2 separate regions of the Homo sapiens genome follow, and region 2 is linked to region 1. A link means that fine-mapping ties the variant in region 1 to the expression of a gene that starts in the linked region. Tissue or cell type: lung. Region 1 holds a variant in brackets; the other region holds the start of a gene. All regions are shown on one strand. Distances are between the middles of the regions.

What was found. PIP is the estimated chance that this variant, and not a neighbour inherited with it, causes the effect.
Region 2: GUK1 starts here. The variant in region 1 is fine-mapped to the expression of GUK1 in lung (TOPMed, PIP above 0.99).

Annotation. Positions count from the first base shown.
Region 1 is chr1:228,738,203-228,746,458 of GRCh38, forward strand. It overlaps RHOU (ras homolog family member U), which reads left to right. Exons shown (of 3, transcript NM_021205.6): 3 at 5,083-8,256. The coding sequence ends at 5,538. Among named protein-coding and RNA genes, the nearest start is that of RHOU, 6.9 kb to the left of the region's middle. The variant A/G (reference allele first, on the strand shown) is at 4,396.
Region 2 is chr1:228,136,046-228,144,045 of GRCh38, forward strand. GUK1 (guanylate kinase 1) reads left to right here and starts at 4,234. Exons shown (of 8, transcript NM_001159390.2): 1 at 4,234-4,318. The coding sequence starts at 4,258. It also overlaps the pseudogene RPS28P3. RefSeq lists enhancers at 3,861-3,910, 4,021-4,250, 7,842-8,000 and a silencer at 4,261-4,820.

The sequences.
Region 1 (8,256 bases):
TGACTCGCTAGGACCAGCCCCATCACTTGAAGCACAGATACATTTGTCAGAGCAGTCCTAAGCTGGAGGGATGAACTAACTGGGCTTATTCTATCCAAACTGTGAACGCTGGTTCTTGTCTCGAGGGCTGGGCCCTTGGAGGAAATAGCCAGGGAGTGTAGGGTTCCCTCTTTGTGTTCCCCAGAAGAAGCCCCCATTGGTGGGTACTCGAGTCATTGAAGTCAGGCTGTGCCTTGTGAACACCCAGGGGTACTTGATTTTGGCAAAGTGATAGTTAATGAACTTGTCTCTCTAGTATGTTCTAGAGTTCAGCAAAGTTCCGGGGGTACTTTGTAGGCAGGTGAAAGTGCCCCCTTCACTTTCTGAGGTGCCATCACATGACTATCTGTGTTTATGAAGGCACTGGCTTTCCACTGCCCCCCAGAGCCTCATCTACGCCAGAGCTTCCAAGTTGCTCACCTACTCTGGGACAGCAGATTCAGAGCTAAGGACAGATCTTATTTTTTAAACCTGAAGATGACATAAGACCGTGGAGCCTTGATCTCCAAGGAACACCGGGCTGGTGCAGGCCATAGCTTGGGAGCACTTCAGCTTGGAAAAACCAAGCACTGTCCGTATTGTATTGTCTGTAGAAAACAAAAATCAGGCTGGGTGTGGTGGCTCATGCTCTTTGGGAGGCTGAGGTGGGAGGATTGCATGAGGCCAGGAATTTGAGACCAGCCTGGGTAGCATAGCAAGACATCATCTCTACAAAATAAAAAAATTAGCCTGGTGTGGTGGCACTGTCTGTAGTCCCAGCCACCAGCCACTCAGGAGGCTGAGGTGAGAGGATCGCTTGAACCCAGGAGTTTGAGGCTGTAGTGAGCTATGATGGTGCCACTGCACTCCAGCCTGGGCGACAGAGCAAGATCCCATCTCTTGGGGGTAAAAAAAAAGAAAAATCAAAGAATACAGTCACTTCTAGCACTGAATCTTTCTGAATGCAATGGTGATATTTATAATTCAAGCTTCATTTCCTTGTATGAAGTGAGGATGCTTTGTCTACCAGGGGGTCAGGTTTTCTGAGTTTTAAAACATGGCCAGCCAGGCGCGGTTGCTCACGCCTGTAATCCCAGCACTTTGGGAGGCTGAGACGGGTGGATCATGAGGTCAGGAGTTCAAGACCAGCCTGGCCAAGATGGTGAAACCCCGTCTCTACTAAAAATACAAAAATTAGCTGGGTGTGGTGCCGGGCGCCTGTAATAGCAGCTACTCAGGAGCCTGAGGCAGACAGTTGCTTGAACCTGGGAGGCGGAGGTTGCAGTGGGCTGAGATCGCGTCACTGCCCTGCAGCCTGGTTGACAGAGAGAGATTCCATCTCAAAAAAAATAAAACACAGGCAGAGGAACATGTCAGTAAACATAGCCATCGGACCTGCTGAAGTCAGACCCTGAGGATAAGATGGAAGTCAGGAAAATACAGGAAGTCCAAAGGCACAGTTAGCAGGGAGCCTTACGGGCTGGAGCAGAAGCTCAGTGCACCTACCTGCCCCAGGATGTCACTCAAATATCACTGTCCACTGGGCTCCCCGTAAGTGTTGGCTCTTCAAGCAGGATGCAGCTTCTTGAGCTGGGGTTTCATGCCCAGTGCCCAGCATAGTGCCTGGCACATAGCAGGGCTTAATCTCGTGGTTTTAGAATGGATGAACCAGAGAAGGACCAGGTGGTGGGGGTATAAACATAAGTTGTGGGCCTGCCCCTTAATAGACTTACAGTGTGGAGGGAAGACAAATGGAAGCTCGTGAAGGAGCAAGCAAAGGGAAGAAAAGAGGTTCGGGCTTAGAGGTGCAGGCTGGTTGGGCCTGGCAGGAAAACCTCTGAGCAGAGTTTTGAAAGACAAATAGGAATTTTACCAGAAGAACTTTGCATAAATGACTGAATCATCAAGGAAGAGTTAAATTGTTCCTGTTTAAAAATCAGGGAAGCACAAGCATCACTTTAGTAGTATTTTTGCACAAAAAAGTTTATAATTAGGGAAAAACGAAGGTTTTGGTGCTACATTTGTAAGTTTCAGTTTATTTGAAAATTATTCTTCTGGCCTCTTAGCAATATTTTCAATGAGATTTACTGTATTTCTTAACCTTTGTGTACTGGTTAGAAGAGTATACCCAATTAAATAATGAATAAGACCACTATCTAAAAATTTGTAGACTTTTAGAACCAACTTCAAAACTTTTGAAGAAGAACCATCTTCAAAAACTATGAAAAATAAGCTGCTGGTAAGATAAGTCAGTTGTTCTGTTTTTGTTTTCCTGATCCCCCATTTATAAATTAGTCTTTGTTTAGACTACTAGCCAAGCTGGTCAAAGTGGCAGTTCTTTTCTACTCTCCCTAGTCCTGATCTGATAAAATACATTTTAAGGGACTTGCTGTGATACCTGCCAAGTTTCCTTATGGAGGAAGGAACACATACCTCTTCTAGGCAGTTGACATAAGAGCCTTGAGGGTTAAGTGACTCCACTGACCTCCACTTCAGATGCCTGGAGAATCAACGTGAGCACAGATAGGCTAGAACTTGGGGATGTGGAGCTGGAGTGTGGGTTTCCCACAGAAGTTGATGGGAGCAGAGTATGGATGGCTCTACATGCTGAAGAAATCACTTCTTGTACTTTGGCTTTTCTTGTTAGGGAGGGTAGGCGAGTCTATAAGATGTCAAAAGGAGTTTTTAACACTGGTCTTACATCACTCAAGGGCAGATTGATCAGAGACAGACTGGAGGCTTGAAAAAACATACCTTTGGCATAAGAGAAAAAAGTATTGCGGAAATAGGAGTAGTTCACTGGAGAGTTGCCAATAGAAGCTGAAAATTCTTCAGCCTTTTGACCCATAAAGTACTTGGAAAAATCTTATACTGAAAAAAAAAAATCAAGTTGCAGCTAGACCAGAGGGATGTAGAATCCAGTCTCGTCTCTCTGCCCCGCCAACCCTGATCAGACTTCTGTGCAGTGTCCGTACCACAGACCTGGCAAGCACATGCAAATTGCTTGGCCTCAGAACGCCTTTTCTTAAGGGTGCATTCCAGTTGTCCTCATTGCACGTGTGTATTGCATTATTTCTAAGATTTCAGGTCAGGCACTGAGCAGGAGGGTCTAATTTCTGTTTTATTTCTCAAGCCCCTTAGCCAGAATCTCAAGAGATCTGGGGAGATAGCTTTCCAAAGCCCCCTCAGAAGTCCCAGCCCTTGTGCTTGCCTTTATTTTTCTCAGTAATGCAACCCCAGATACCAGGGCATGGCCAGGGGTGCAGCTACCTGAGGGGGCTGCCTTAATACTGGTCTCAGTTTTATGCTTCTTTCTTTGAGGCCCTCTAAGAACAGAGGGAGCATTCCATTAAAAGATCTTCATGACTGAGCCATAGTCTACCTGGCTGTGTTTCTGTGTTTATTTATTCATCACAAAGTTGGCATGAAGAAACTTAAGTCATTATTTTTCTTTTTAAAAATTTTTTTTAGAGAGCAGGGTCTTGGTATGTCACCCAGGCTGGTCTCAAACTCCAGGGCTCAAGTGATCCCCCTGCCTCAGCTTCCCAAGTAACTGTGACTATAGGCACGTGCCACCACATTTGGCTAAGTCATACTTTTTCAACTTTCGCTTACAGAAGCCTCACAAGTGACATTCTGAAATACCACATTGATTGCTGAGCATTTTAGCTGGTTGACTTTAATGTGATTAGTTGGTTGGCTGTCGTCCCGTAATTGAAACATGGGGCCTCAAATGAAGAAAGTACATTCAAATAAGTTACAGGTTTCTTTTATACCAAGAGAAAAAAGCCACGGATGGAGTATAATGTGATGTAAATGGTACTTGGTAAATAATCGGAGTGTGTCAATTGAGTAATGAAAAACATGAATGGCGTTGAACTTTTTCTTGTCATTGGGAAATTATTTATACCTGAGGATGGTTGGCACCAACAGATATACATTTTACATAGGAAAGAGTAAATATTTTTCTACAAAAGAGTTGAGCAAAAGTTGTCAGTTAGCTGAATATGGTGCTACAGGGAACTATAGGATGTTTTCTGTAAAGAAATGGTAATTTGGAGAACAACATCTGTCTGTTCACAGCCAAATCCCCTCGCCTGCCACTGTGCCTTGAGTGTAGGTGATGTTCAGTGTGTCTGTTAAATGGATGACCACGGGAGAGCATTGGCAGCACAACCGTTGGTTTATTTGTAATCAACTCTAACTTATTCTATCCACTTCTCTATACTTTAAGGGTAGGGTGGGCGTGCCTATTCTCCAGTTCTTATCTGTCCAAAGCACTGTACATGGAGGCCATGGGTACTGGCAAGGATAAAGGAAGTAGGAGAAAATGAAGGAAGGAGGGAGGAAGAGAAGATACAGCCAGAATGAGGATGT[A/G]TTAACTAGTGTCTGTAAGTGGCACTGAGCTGCAAAAGTTTTCTGAGTCACGATGACAATGGACTGACAAAGGTCCTCAACTCCATTTCTGGTCTGGCCTTGAGTCTGATTAGCATTACTCTGCGTTGCTGTGCATAGTGTGGGCAGAGCGTGTGCACAGTGCAGATGGGATGAAATTGGCATCACTCAGAGCTGTTGGGAAAGGCAGGGCTGGATTGATAAAGAGAGGAGCTGTGTTCGTAGACTGGGTTTGAGTGGGAGTCTTGAGGATCAATATGGGTGTGGTCTGAATTTTAGAAGAGTAGCTAAGTACCAAGAGTTGAGAGTAGGTTTGGGTTACACTCAGCTGAAGGCTTAAGTCCATTTTATTTCTAGAACCCACCTACTTTGAGCACTTTTTCTATGTTAAGCTGTAAGTAGGTCTTGAGTGTCGATGAACACGTTGAACATGTTTGGCAGTGTTCAGACCATAGCTGGCCCTGAAAGCAGATGGCTGCCACACCTTCGCTGGTGCACTGGCCCCGCTTGGGTAAACAGTAGGATCGTTTCAAGGATGCTGGCTCTTCCTTCTAGAACCAGCGGGTCTTCTATCACCTGCCAGACCCTTTCATGAAAAATGTGAAGGTGATCTTTTTACTGATGAGAATTCATGAAAACATAACTTTTGGGTACTTTGCTTGGTTGCAGGATGAATTTGACAAGCTGAGGCCTCTCTGCTACACCAACACAGACATCTTCCTGCTCTGCTTCAGTGTCGTGAGCCCCTCATCCTTCCAGAACGTCAGTGAGAAATGGGTGCCGGAGATTCGATGCCACTGTCCCAAAGCCCCCATCATCCTAGTTGGAACGCAGTCGGATCTCAGAGAAGATGTCAAAGTCCTCATTGAGTTGGACAAATGCAAAGAAAAGCCAGTGCCTGAAGAGGCGGCTAAGCTGTGCGCCGAGGAAATCAAAGCCGCCTCCTACATCGAGTGTTCAGCCTTGACTCAAAAAAACCTCAAAGAGGTCTTTGATGCAGCCATCGTCGCTGGCATTCAATACTCGGACACTCAGCAACAGCCAAAGAAGTCTAAAAGCAGGACTCCAGATAAAATGAAAAACCTCTCCAAGTCCTGGTGGAAGAAGTACTGCTGTTTCGTATGATGCTGGCAAGACACCCAGAAAGGCTATTTTCAGATGAAATCGATATTAGAAGCTATATTAGCTGAAACAACTCCTTTTACTGCGTAGAACCTATATCGAGAGTGTGTGTATATGTATTATAGGAGGAGCTCTCAATTTTATGTATTCTTTCTGCCTTTAATTTTCTTGTTTGTTTGAGCTTAGGGATGAGATACTTATGCAAGATATTTTTGAAGTAAATTAAACATTTTTCACATCTCTGGAAATTTAGAGTTCTAGACCTCTGGTTAATTTATATCTAATATGAAGAAGACACCTCTAATCTGGATGTTAAGAATGAAGTTCTGCTACATTATAATGTACAGAAGAGCAAAAGGGAGGAACACTATGGTTAACCCTCTCTTGATTAAGGGCTACTTAATGCACAGTGCATTATGTACACAGGTCAACCATGGTAACAATAGTTCTTAGCTTTGAAACTCCATGCAAACCATGCCTTTTTTTTAAGGAGCAAAAATCTGAGAAAAAAAGTGAGAGACCTCTGCCTACAAAACCTCAAACCAGTCACTTTTGTCAATTGCTAATACCCAGTTACTTATGATTTAAAAACAACCAACAGAAAACATCCCACTGACTGTATGGCACTCTGTAGTCAAAAAAGGAAACTTCCTTATTGGGACTTTTCTTTCTTAGTCCAGTTGTGTTGACACATATGAACACAGACAAAGTGCTATGCGGAGGAAAGCAAGTGTTGGTCAGTAGTTTCATGTTTTAGGGAGTGGTTCCTGTGGAGATCAGAAAGTGACATTTGCTTTCGGTACTGTAATACGTGCACCAAACTGCCTCAATCCTAGGTAACGAGGGCAACAGGGAGCACCTGTCTGGATTGTTTTTAAACCTCCATACTCAAGCTGTCTCTTCGGCAGGGAGGTGAATACTCTTGAAAGGCCAACAGCAAGTGTTTGTGGGACACAACACAGATAATTTTTTCTTAAGTCGGCCAAGATGTACTTCTCTGTGTGCACACCCATGCACACTCATGCACACAGATACATAGGTCTGTATGGCTGTATTTGCTGTTGATTCAGACTTTCACACCATTAATGGGGAAAAGCGTGGCCACAAAAACAGATGCTAGGAAGCTTGGCTTCCTCTTCTTGTTGACCCTTTTTTGAACCAACATCTTTTTTATTATATTCAGAGTATGTTTTTAAGTGTATCTTAATATATACATTTTTTAGGACATCTTAAATCTAAACAAAAAATAAAATGAACATCTCTTGAAACCTGTTAAAACAACCAGTTAAAGCCACAGATGGCTTTCAGGGCAGTAGCAGCAGAGGCCAGTGGACTCTGAGGACTCCTGAGGGGCGGGGCGTGTAGCCAGCCAGGTGCATGCCGGGACCATGGCCCCCATACTTGGCTGCTTCCTGTGACAGTGAAATACATCCTTCAAGGTGGCAGCTGTTAGGGCTGAATCTTCTGGAGAAAAAGGTGCCATCTCAGGAGAATAGCTTTTACTCTGGTAGGAATGCTTCCGAGACACCACAAGGCAGCCTGAACACTCAGTTGCAGGGTCGGGCTTGCGGTGGGTGACCCAGAGCCACCAAAGTCACATCCACAACTAATGAGGGAAATCTGTAAAGCCAGTTAGATAGAAGAATTTTATTTTTCTGTGGGTTTTGTGTTGTCTTTTTTATGTTAAAAAGAAATCCAGTTTGTGTTTTTCTATAGAAAAAGTAAAAGATCAGGTTATACTTTAGGTTAGGGGTTCTATTTATTCCTGTTAGTAAATAAAATTAACAAATTTCTTTGTTTAACAAAAGATTAATCTTTAAACCACTAAAATACATAGACTGATTGATTATTCAACACATTGGAATTGATGTCGGTCATAGTTTCCTGAAGCATTTAGTTACAACCTGAAGGAATAAAATGATTTGTGGAAATGCTTAAAATAGACCTAACTGAATACAGTCTCATCTTGCCGCGCCTGGCTTACCTATCTGTGGAAAGCTAGGCTTCCCAGGCTGGGCTCTGCCTGTCTGGTGCCTGGAGGTGTGGGAGGGAAGATGAGTTATTTAACTGGTAAGCGATTTGAAACACTATTTTTATATTAAAGTAAATGGCATGGAGTATAGTGCAAATTCATTTTTAAGATAGAACACAAAACTTGAAAGAAGTTTTATGCGTGTGACAGTGTATGGGGCTGCAGTTGGTCTCCCTGGAGGGGACTTCCACACCTCCTGCCTTTAGGCCATGGGTGGAAAGTGCTCAGTGAAGTACACCTGTGTGGCCCAGTTCTGAAAGCTTTATACAGTTGAATTTTAAGTGGGGTTGATAACACCTTGGACTGTTAGTGTTAAAAATCTAGTGGGTTGACCTTTAAATGCAACAGTTTTTAAAATATATTGCTGCATTTTATAGAATAGTAAAGGTACGATTATACTTGAGATTTTCCTCCATTTTTATTTCTTCGTGAACATAGAGTTTGGGGCCGAAAATGTTTTTAAAGTATGTGTTTGAGTTAAATATAAAGTTGGTTCACTTCAAAGCTAAAAAATTGTTAAACTTGCAGCTTGGTATTGCAGAGAAGATTTTATAAGAATTTTGCTTTAGAGAATGCCACTTTGGCTGAACTACAAGTGTAGGCCACCATTATAATTTATAAATACAGCATACTTCAAAACTGTTTGTTATCTCTTGTTACCATGTATGTATAAATGGACCTTTTATAAC
Region 2 (8,000 bases), 600 kb before region 1:
ATGGAGGGAAGATCACTTGAGGCTAGAAGGTTGAGGCTGTAGGGAGCTATTATTGCACCACTGTGCTCCAGCCTGGGCAACAGAGTGAGGCCCTGACAGAAGAAGAGGAAGAAAGAAGAGGAAGAAGGAGGAGGAGAATCTGCCCTCTTTATAACAGGACACAATTGGAAATATTGGTTATATTATGACTGGGATATCGAAATTGAGACTGTAGATACAGACTTTGCCTGCAGTACTTACAGACGCATTCTATCTACACTGGCTTCCTAGCATCGAAAGATTTTTAAAAGTTCATTTTGAGATTCCTGATCTAAAGTTCCACCCAAGCAAACTTAAAAGAGCCTATGTGGTTGATGCTATTCTCACTGAACTTACCTAAATAAGCAGGGCAAGTTTGATGAGGCTAAACATTTTGCAAACAAATTAGTCTTACTCTGATTATCTCTGGTAGAAATGAGGGGCAACTGTAAAGAGAAAATGTATGTTTCAGAAGAAAGAACATTATAGTACACTTGTTCTTAGATTGTAGCCTTGTTTGTTGTTCTAGAGTTTTTATTATCTACCTGCAGAATGGACTGGACCCTGAATTCTTCTTGTTTCCTCCAACATATGTTGACAACTCTCCACCTTAAGAACAAAGCTACTAAGCTGGACAACTTGATGTAAGCATCAAGGGACAAGTCTCATGCCAACGTGTGGACCATACAGAGTTCACCAAACCATCTGTTGTCATAATCAGAGACAGTCATATTACAAATCAGGACCAGAAGTTGACCATTTTACATTGTGAAGCTTTTCCCCAGATATCCAAAGAAGACTAGCCTCTTGCCCCTCTCAATTTTTCCTTGCTCATGCCTATCTCTTTCACTTGGCAGGCTAATGCTGTAGTTAGAATTTCACACCAGTAGCTTCTGTGGGTTACCTGATAAATATATCGGGTCTGTCAGGCCAGACTCTCATCTTTATGACCCAACAGATCCTTTAGTTTACTTAGTGGGTAAGTTTGGCAACATCCCTGATGCAACTGTTTGGCATCAAAGCAAACCAGACCCACTTCTTCTCACTCCCTGCCTTAATTTTACATAGATTACCTACTAGCTGAACAGGAAGGGGTCTGTGTGGTTTCTGACACATCTTGTTGCACATGGGTAAATACATCAGGTATTGTAGACTCAGCTGCAAAAAATTAACAAACAGGCTACTTGGTTAAAATGGGTAGACTCCCCATCTGGCTTATTGTTTGATCTATTCAGTTTTCGTTGGTTGGGTTCACAGGGACTCTGGCTAAGGAACATACTCCAAACCCTTGGTATTATCCTCCTGACAGTCACAATAGTAGTCTCCCTGGTGTGTTGTATCCTTTCAAATGTTTTAAATGTTTGCATGTGACCATCCATTGAACATCAAATGGTCCCTCTTCAGCTGGAATGACACAAACTCAAAGAAATGCATGATCATGGCCAGGCATGGTGGCTCACGCCTGCAATCCCAGCACTTTGGGAGGCCAAGGCGGGCGGATCATGTGGTCAGAAGTTTGAGACCAGCCTGGCCAATATGGTGAAACTCCATCTCTACTAAAAATACAAAAATTAGCTGGGCATGGTGGTGGGCACCTGTAATCCCAGCTACTCAGGAGGCTGAGGCAGGAGAATTGTTTGAACCCAGGAGGTGGAGGTCGCAGTGAGCTGAGATTGTGCTATTGCACTGGGCGACAGGGCGAGACTCCGTCTCAAAAAAAAAAAGAAAGAAAGAAAAGAAAAGCATGATCATGAAGACACTGTAACCTATCAATGACATGTTGAGACCAGAAACCCAAACTGATAGTAACTGAGAGAGGCACTTTTAAGTTTTGGTCAAGCTAGGTGAGAGCCTGATCAAAATGGGTAAAAATTGTTTTTAAAAAATCATGGGAGGCCATTGTTTTGGACCGAGCTCTTGCACTAGGTCCCAATAGACCAGGCCAAACCAAAATTAAATCACTTATGTTAAATACTACATAAGAAACTAAATCCCAAAACAGATTAGTTTTTCCTCAGTTGGCATAATAAGGAAGTCCCTTCTTCTCTCTAACCCTTACAAAAGAGTAACCTGAAGTAAGCTAAGGTTATCAATCTGTTATTTTTCTATCTTGTTTCCTCGTTCTCCTCACCTTACAAAACCCATGGTTCTGCTATCGCCCAGGCAGGGGCTTTTTTTTTTTTTTTTTTTTTTTTTGAGATGGTCGCGCTCTGTCGCCCAAGCTGGAGTGCAGTGGCGCATCTCAGCTCACTGCAAGCTCCACCTCCCGGGTCCACGCCATTCTCCTGCCTCAGCCTCCTGCGTAGCTGGGACTACAGGTGCCCGCCACCACACCTGGCTAATTCAGGCAGGGGCTTTTATTCTATTTTGTAGAATGAAGGCTGCCTCAATTCATGAATCACGAATAAAAGCCAGCGAGACCTATGAATACATATGACATAATTTTGCCTCTGACAGTGAACTTCCCCTTTTTTTGCCTAAAAAGCTTCTCCTTGCCCACCTCCCCCAATGCAGCACCTATGGTATGACATAGCACATGTATTCCAGGTTACAATCCCTTGTCCAACAAACTGTTTTATTATTAGTATTTAAAAAAAATAGAGACAAGGCTTTGCCATGTTGCCCAGGCTGGTCTCCAACTCCGGGGCAAGTGATCCATCCGCCTTGGCCTCCAAAAGTGCTGGGACTGCAGGCATGAGCCATGGTGCCCAGCCCCAACACATTTTTTTGAAGTTGTATTTTTTAAAGTTTTACTTTTTTTCTTGCTCTCCTGCAGTTCACATTCAATACTTTTTTTTTTTTTTTTTGAGACGGAGTCTCATTCTGTCGTCTAGGCTGGAGTGCCGTGGCTTGATCTCGGCTCACTGCAACCTCCACCTCCCAGGTTCAAGTGATCCTCCTGCCTCAGCCACCCCAGTAGCTGGAATTACAGGGGCCCACGACCACACCCAGCTGATTTTGTATTTTTAGTAGAGACAGAGTTTCACCATTTTGGCCAGGCTAGTCCCAAACTCCTGGCCTCAGGTGATCTGCCTGCCTCGGACTCCCAAAGTGCTGGCATTACAGGTGTGAGCCACTGCACCCAGCCTTCAATAAATCTTTTTTAAAAATTTAAAATAATTTTTAGAAATAGAGTCCCGTGGCCAGGTGCAGTGGCTCACGCCTGTAATCCCAGCACTTTGGGAGGCCAAGGTTGGTGGATTACCTGAGGTTAGGAGTTCAAGACCAGCCTGGCCAACATGGTGAAACCCTGTCTCTACTAAAAATACAAAAATTAGCTGGGCGTGGTGGCGGGCGCCTGTAATCCCAGCTACTCGGGAGGCTGAGGCAGGAGAATCGCTTGAACCTAGGAGGCCCAGGTTGCAGTGAGCAGAGATGGCGTCACTGAACTCCAGCCTGGGTGACAAGAGCGAAACTCCGTCTCAAAAAATAAAAAAAGAAAGAAATAGGGTCTCGCTCTGTCACACAGACTGGAGTGCAGTGACACGAACACCGCTCACTGCAGCCTCGACTGCCCAGGCTCAAGCGACCGTCCCACGTCAGCCTCCCGAGTAGCAAGGACTACAGGCACAAAAAAGTTTTTAAATTTTTTGGTACAGAAGGGGTTTCCCTATGATCCCCAGGCTGGTCTCCAATTCCTGGCCTCAAGCGGTCCTCCCGGCTCGGACTCCCAAAGAGCTGGGATCACAGACGTGAACCACGCGCCCGGCCACATTCCCCAATTAATGGTTTTTGGAGAGTGGCCGGTTTGGAACGGGCTAGCGGAGTCGTTCGTTAGTTAGGTCCCTGCAGTGTAGATGGAGGACGGAAACGGCGCTGTGACATAAGCGGGAGGAGGCGGGCTGAGGCAGCGCTGTGACGTAGCAGATGAAAGCCGGGCCCGCGCTGCACTGAGGTACTTCTCTGAGTGACAAGCGGGACAAGTACGCCGTGGGCGGGGCCGGCGGGTCGTGATGTTAGTTCGCGCTGTGTGGAGGCGGGCCGGCGTGGCGCTGTGACGCAGCGGGAGAAGACGGGCTGGGAGGGCGCTGTGCTGAACGCCCCTGCGGTCGCGACAGGCCAGCGCAGGTGGAGGCGGGGCTAGCGAGGCACTGAGGTAAGTACTTCCCTAAGGGGCGGGGAAGAACGAGTGAGACATGGGCGGGGCAGTCGCCTCATGACGTCAGTCTCGCGCGCGGGCGGAGGTGGGCCGGTGCGGCGCTGTCACGTAGGTTCAGTGGGCGGAAGAGGTGGCCCCGGATGCTGCGGCGCCCGCTGGCCGGGCTGGCTGCGGCCGCCCTGGGCCGGGCCCCACCGGACGGTGAGTACGACAAGCGCGATCGCGAGGGTGACTCGGGTCGAGGCGGCAGCGGTCCCTGCGCTTTGCGGTCGCCCAGTCCACGCCGCCTCCGGATCTCCTCCTAGCCGAGACGCCCTGTGCCGCATTCAACTGTGGGCCCTGAGAACGGGGGAGCTCTGGAGGGCGGACGGGCTGGCAACGCAGCGGAGCCCGGGTCCCGGAGGGCGGGGCGCTCCTCAGGAGCTGGGCAGGCCGGCAGTTATCGCAGTGTCGAGCTGCTCCCCGGGCGTATAGGAGCGCTCGGTGTCTTCCCGACACCTGGGCGCGCCGCCAAAGAGAGCAGCTGGGAGTCCCTACCGCTGGCCCGGCGCGGTGTGCGCTCCGGTTCCCACCTCACCCTGCAAGCCTTGGGGTCCTGGGCGGATGGAGCCGGCTATTCCGGGGCTCCCAGGATTCTGCCTACTCCGCGGCACGGCGCAGAGACGGGGACTTGGGGAAACAGCAGGCCTTCCCGACGCATGGGTGTGGCATTTGGGGTTCGGATTCTCCAAAGCCAGAGTCCGGGTTGGGGTTCTTGAAGCTGCCCTGCTGCCATTCTTGAGCGTCGCCTTAGAAGTATGCCCCAGTAAGGACTGGTGTGGGAAGCAGGTGCCTCAAAGTTGATTTTGACCCTGCGTGTGGTGGGCCTCGGTTTCGTCTTTGCATGAAAGAGGTCGGTCCTGAGGCCCCGGGCTGGGTCCTGCTCTGCTGTCTTTGGGCTCATGGCCCCTTCCTGTCTCAGGCTTGCTCTGCTCTTTACCTGGGGTTGCTGTCGAGGACCCTGTGCAAGACTCGGCCGGTTTTTCTTTCTCCCTGATGGACAGACCCAAACATAGCCGCGCAGCATCGTGAAGGGCTGGGGCCTTCACTCCTCTGTGGCTCTGGAAGAGCCCGATTTCCTCAGGAGGTAAAGGAATGTTCCTGTCCCCCCCGGGGAAAGAAAGTGAAAATGAAAGCGCCCTGGCTGCTCCTGGTGTGGTCCCATTTAAAACGAGGTTGCTGAAGGCCAGGATGCGTGCTACCCGGATGTGTGCCCAGAAACCCTGCAGCCAAGAGCAGCCGCCTGGACCACCAGCCTCCCCTTCATCCACCTGGCCCAGCCCAGAGCCCAGGCCCACGTCTGGTGGTTTGTGTCTTACGAGAGGCCAGGCGGGGGCTGAATTCTCTCGGTTCTCAGAAGGTCAAGCCCTCTGTTAGCATCTCCTCGAACAGTGGGCCGGGGGCAAGGTGGTGACTCTGTTCAGTCCTTAGGATGGCTGGAAGCCAGAAGGAGGAGATTATGCCGCCACAGCAGGGAGTGCCTTTCCAGGAAAGCGGCTGCTGGGGCAGCATGGGAGCCCAGTCCAGGGAGCGTTCTGGCAGAGACCATTCCGGAACATGGATCTGCGCCGGCGGCTCCCAGGAGACCTTCCATCTCGGAGCTCCTGTGGAGACCACGTGCCTGGCAGGTCCTTACAGTTGTGGGTTGTGTGGCTTCTTGCCAGGCAGCTGATTGGAGTTTGCGACTGTGGGTTGGTGAGAGTGGAGAGCACAGAATGTTTGCTGGAATGCTTCCCTCTGCCCACAGGAAGACACCTTTGGCGCATGTGTTCTGGTCAGGGCAAAGGCTCCGTGGTTTCCACCGCAAGATTGCAGGAGCCTTGAGGCCTGGGCCACAGTTTTCTCCCTTGGGTGTGCTCCATGGAAGGTGGCTTTGGTGACCGCCCTGCCACTGGTCTCTCCCCAGGCAGGCAGGCAGCCTGTGCCTCCGCCCTGTCTCCAGCGGTGGTGGTGTGGCTGTGCTTCTGCAAGGCCCGCATCCACTCACTGTCTGCCCTCTGCACTCTCTGGCTGGCCAGGGCCCCCAGTAGTCTGCTCATTGTGCCCTCACGCTTGGGCAGAGCCGAACTCAGGGGACCCAGGAAGAGCGGAGTGTTGGCCCGTCCAGAGTTCTTGGCAATTGGTGTGTCATGTGTGCCTCGTGCCCTGTGCTGGGCGAGAGTGGGCACAGCTGCGCAGACAACGCCCTTGGCGAGGCTGGAGCCTGGACCCCTGCCTGGCAGCAGCTGGGTGAACTGGTGTCTTCTGCCTGCGGGCCCAGCCTCACCTCAATAGCTTACTGCTCCCTCAGGAGGGAGGAGGGGAGGCCTGGGAGCCTGGGCTTGGCGGGGTAAGGGTGGTGCAGGGGCAACACCTGTGGAGGAAACAGGCGGGGTTGGGGCCCACCAGCGTCTGCTGTCTGCTCTGTGCTGGGTTGCATCTGTTGGTGTCTGATCGTTGTCAGGGCCCTGTGGTGAAGAGACACACCTGCCACTTGCTGCTTGCGAGGAAAGGGGGAGATCCCCAACCCAGGAGCCAGAGGTGGGACTCCAGCACCCCCCATTCCTGGGAGTTGGAAGTGAGGCACGAGCTCCCCAATTCCTGGGCATCGGGGATGGGGTTTGGGGCCGAGGAGGGGATGGAGACCAGGGTCTTGTGGTAGTTTGGTGGGATCCTCAGAAGGTGTGGCTCTCCCCCTTCTGAGGACGCAAAAACTCCCAGAGTTTTTGGCGATTGATGTGCCACGTGTGCCTTGTGCCCTGTGCTGGGCGAGTGTAGGCACAGCTGTGCAGACGACGCCCTTGGCAAGGCTGGAGCCTGGACCCCTGCCTGGCAGCAGCTGGGCGAACTGGTGTCTTCTGCCTGTGGGCCCAGCTTCACTTCACTAGCTTAGCGCTCCCTCAGGAGGGAGGAGGGGAGGCCTGGTCAGTGGAGGTCACCACTGTGTTTCCTTCTGTGTGGGTTTATAGTCACGTAGCATCTAGGTTCAGACCCGAAGAGCTTGGAGCCAGGGGCTGGGGGGAACAGGGCAGGACCGGCCTTGGGGCAGCCCTGTCAGGCCCACCAGTGCCATGCTGGTTGTGGGTTGGCAGGGCAGAGTGACCTTAAGAAGGGCCAGCTCAGTGGAGCAACAGGACAGAAGCTCACATGGGGTCCAGCCCACAGGACCATTTGAGTAGCTCTCCCATATCGGGTCCTTCGAAGCACATGATTTAGCTTTACTTTTTCTCCTTCGTATTAGAAAAGTCACCATAATACCATCAAGTCATAATTTCTGTGATCTCAGTGCTTCAAGTAGGTGTGTAGCAATTGCTGGATGTGTCCTGAGAACTGTACCCCTTCCACCCTGGCGAGAAGCAGGGGCCAGAAATTCACACAAGTGGCATGGCTCATTGATTGTGGGAGACTCTGGGGGGCTCCTAGCTAGTGCATTATGGGAACCAGGCTGTGGAGGTTGCAGGGCTCGCTGGCTGGGAGAAGCTGAATGGATAAAGAACCCTGGCCACTGCAGTGCGTGCTGATGGTTGGCTGGCACGTAGAGGAGGTGGCAGGGCTGGGTGAGCAGCAGGAGCCAGGTTAGTGGGGAGGCCCGAGCTAAGCGCAGGGGCAAATTCTGCGGGTGGGAGAGCCAGGAGGGCATGGGGTGCATGGTGAGATGAAAACGATGTGTGCTTGTGACAAAAAGCCCAGAAGAGGCAGTAAGGAGGGAGGAGTCTATCCCTTATGGAGAGCACATGGACTTCTGGGTGGGTGTCCTGCAGTTCCCTTCCTCTTGAGTCTTTTTAACTGGGGGTCCGGTGTGTTTGTGATCAATGACATGTATGCGTGTGCATGTGTACCTTTGCAGGTACACATGTGTGGTGTG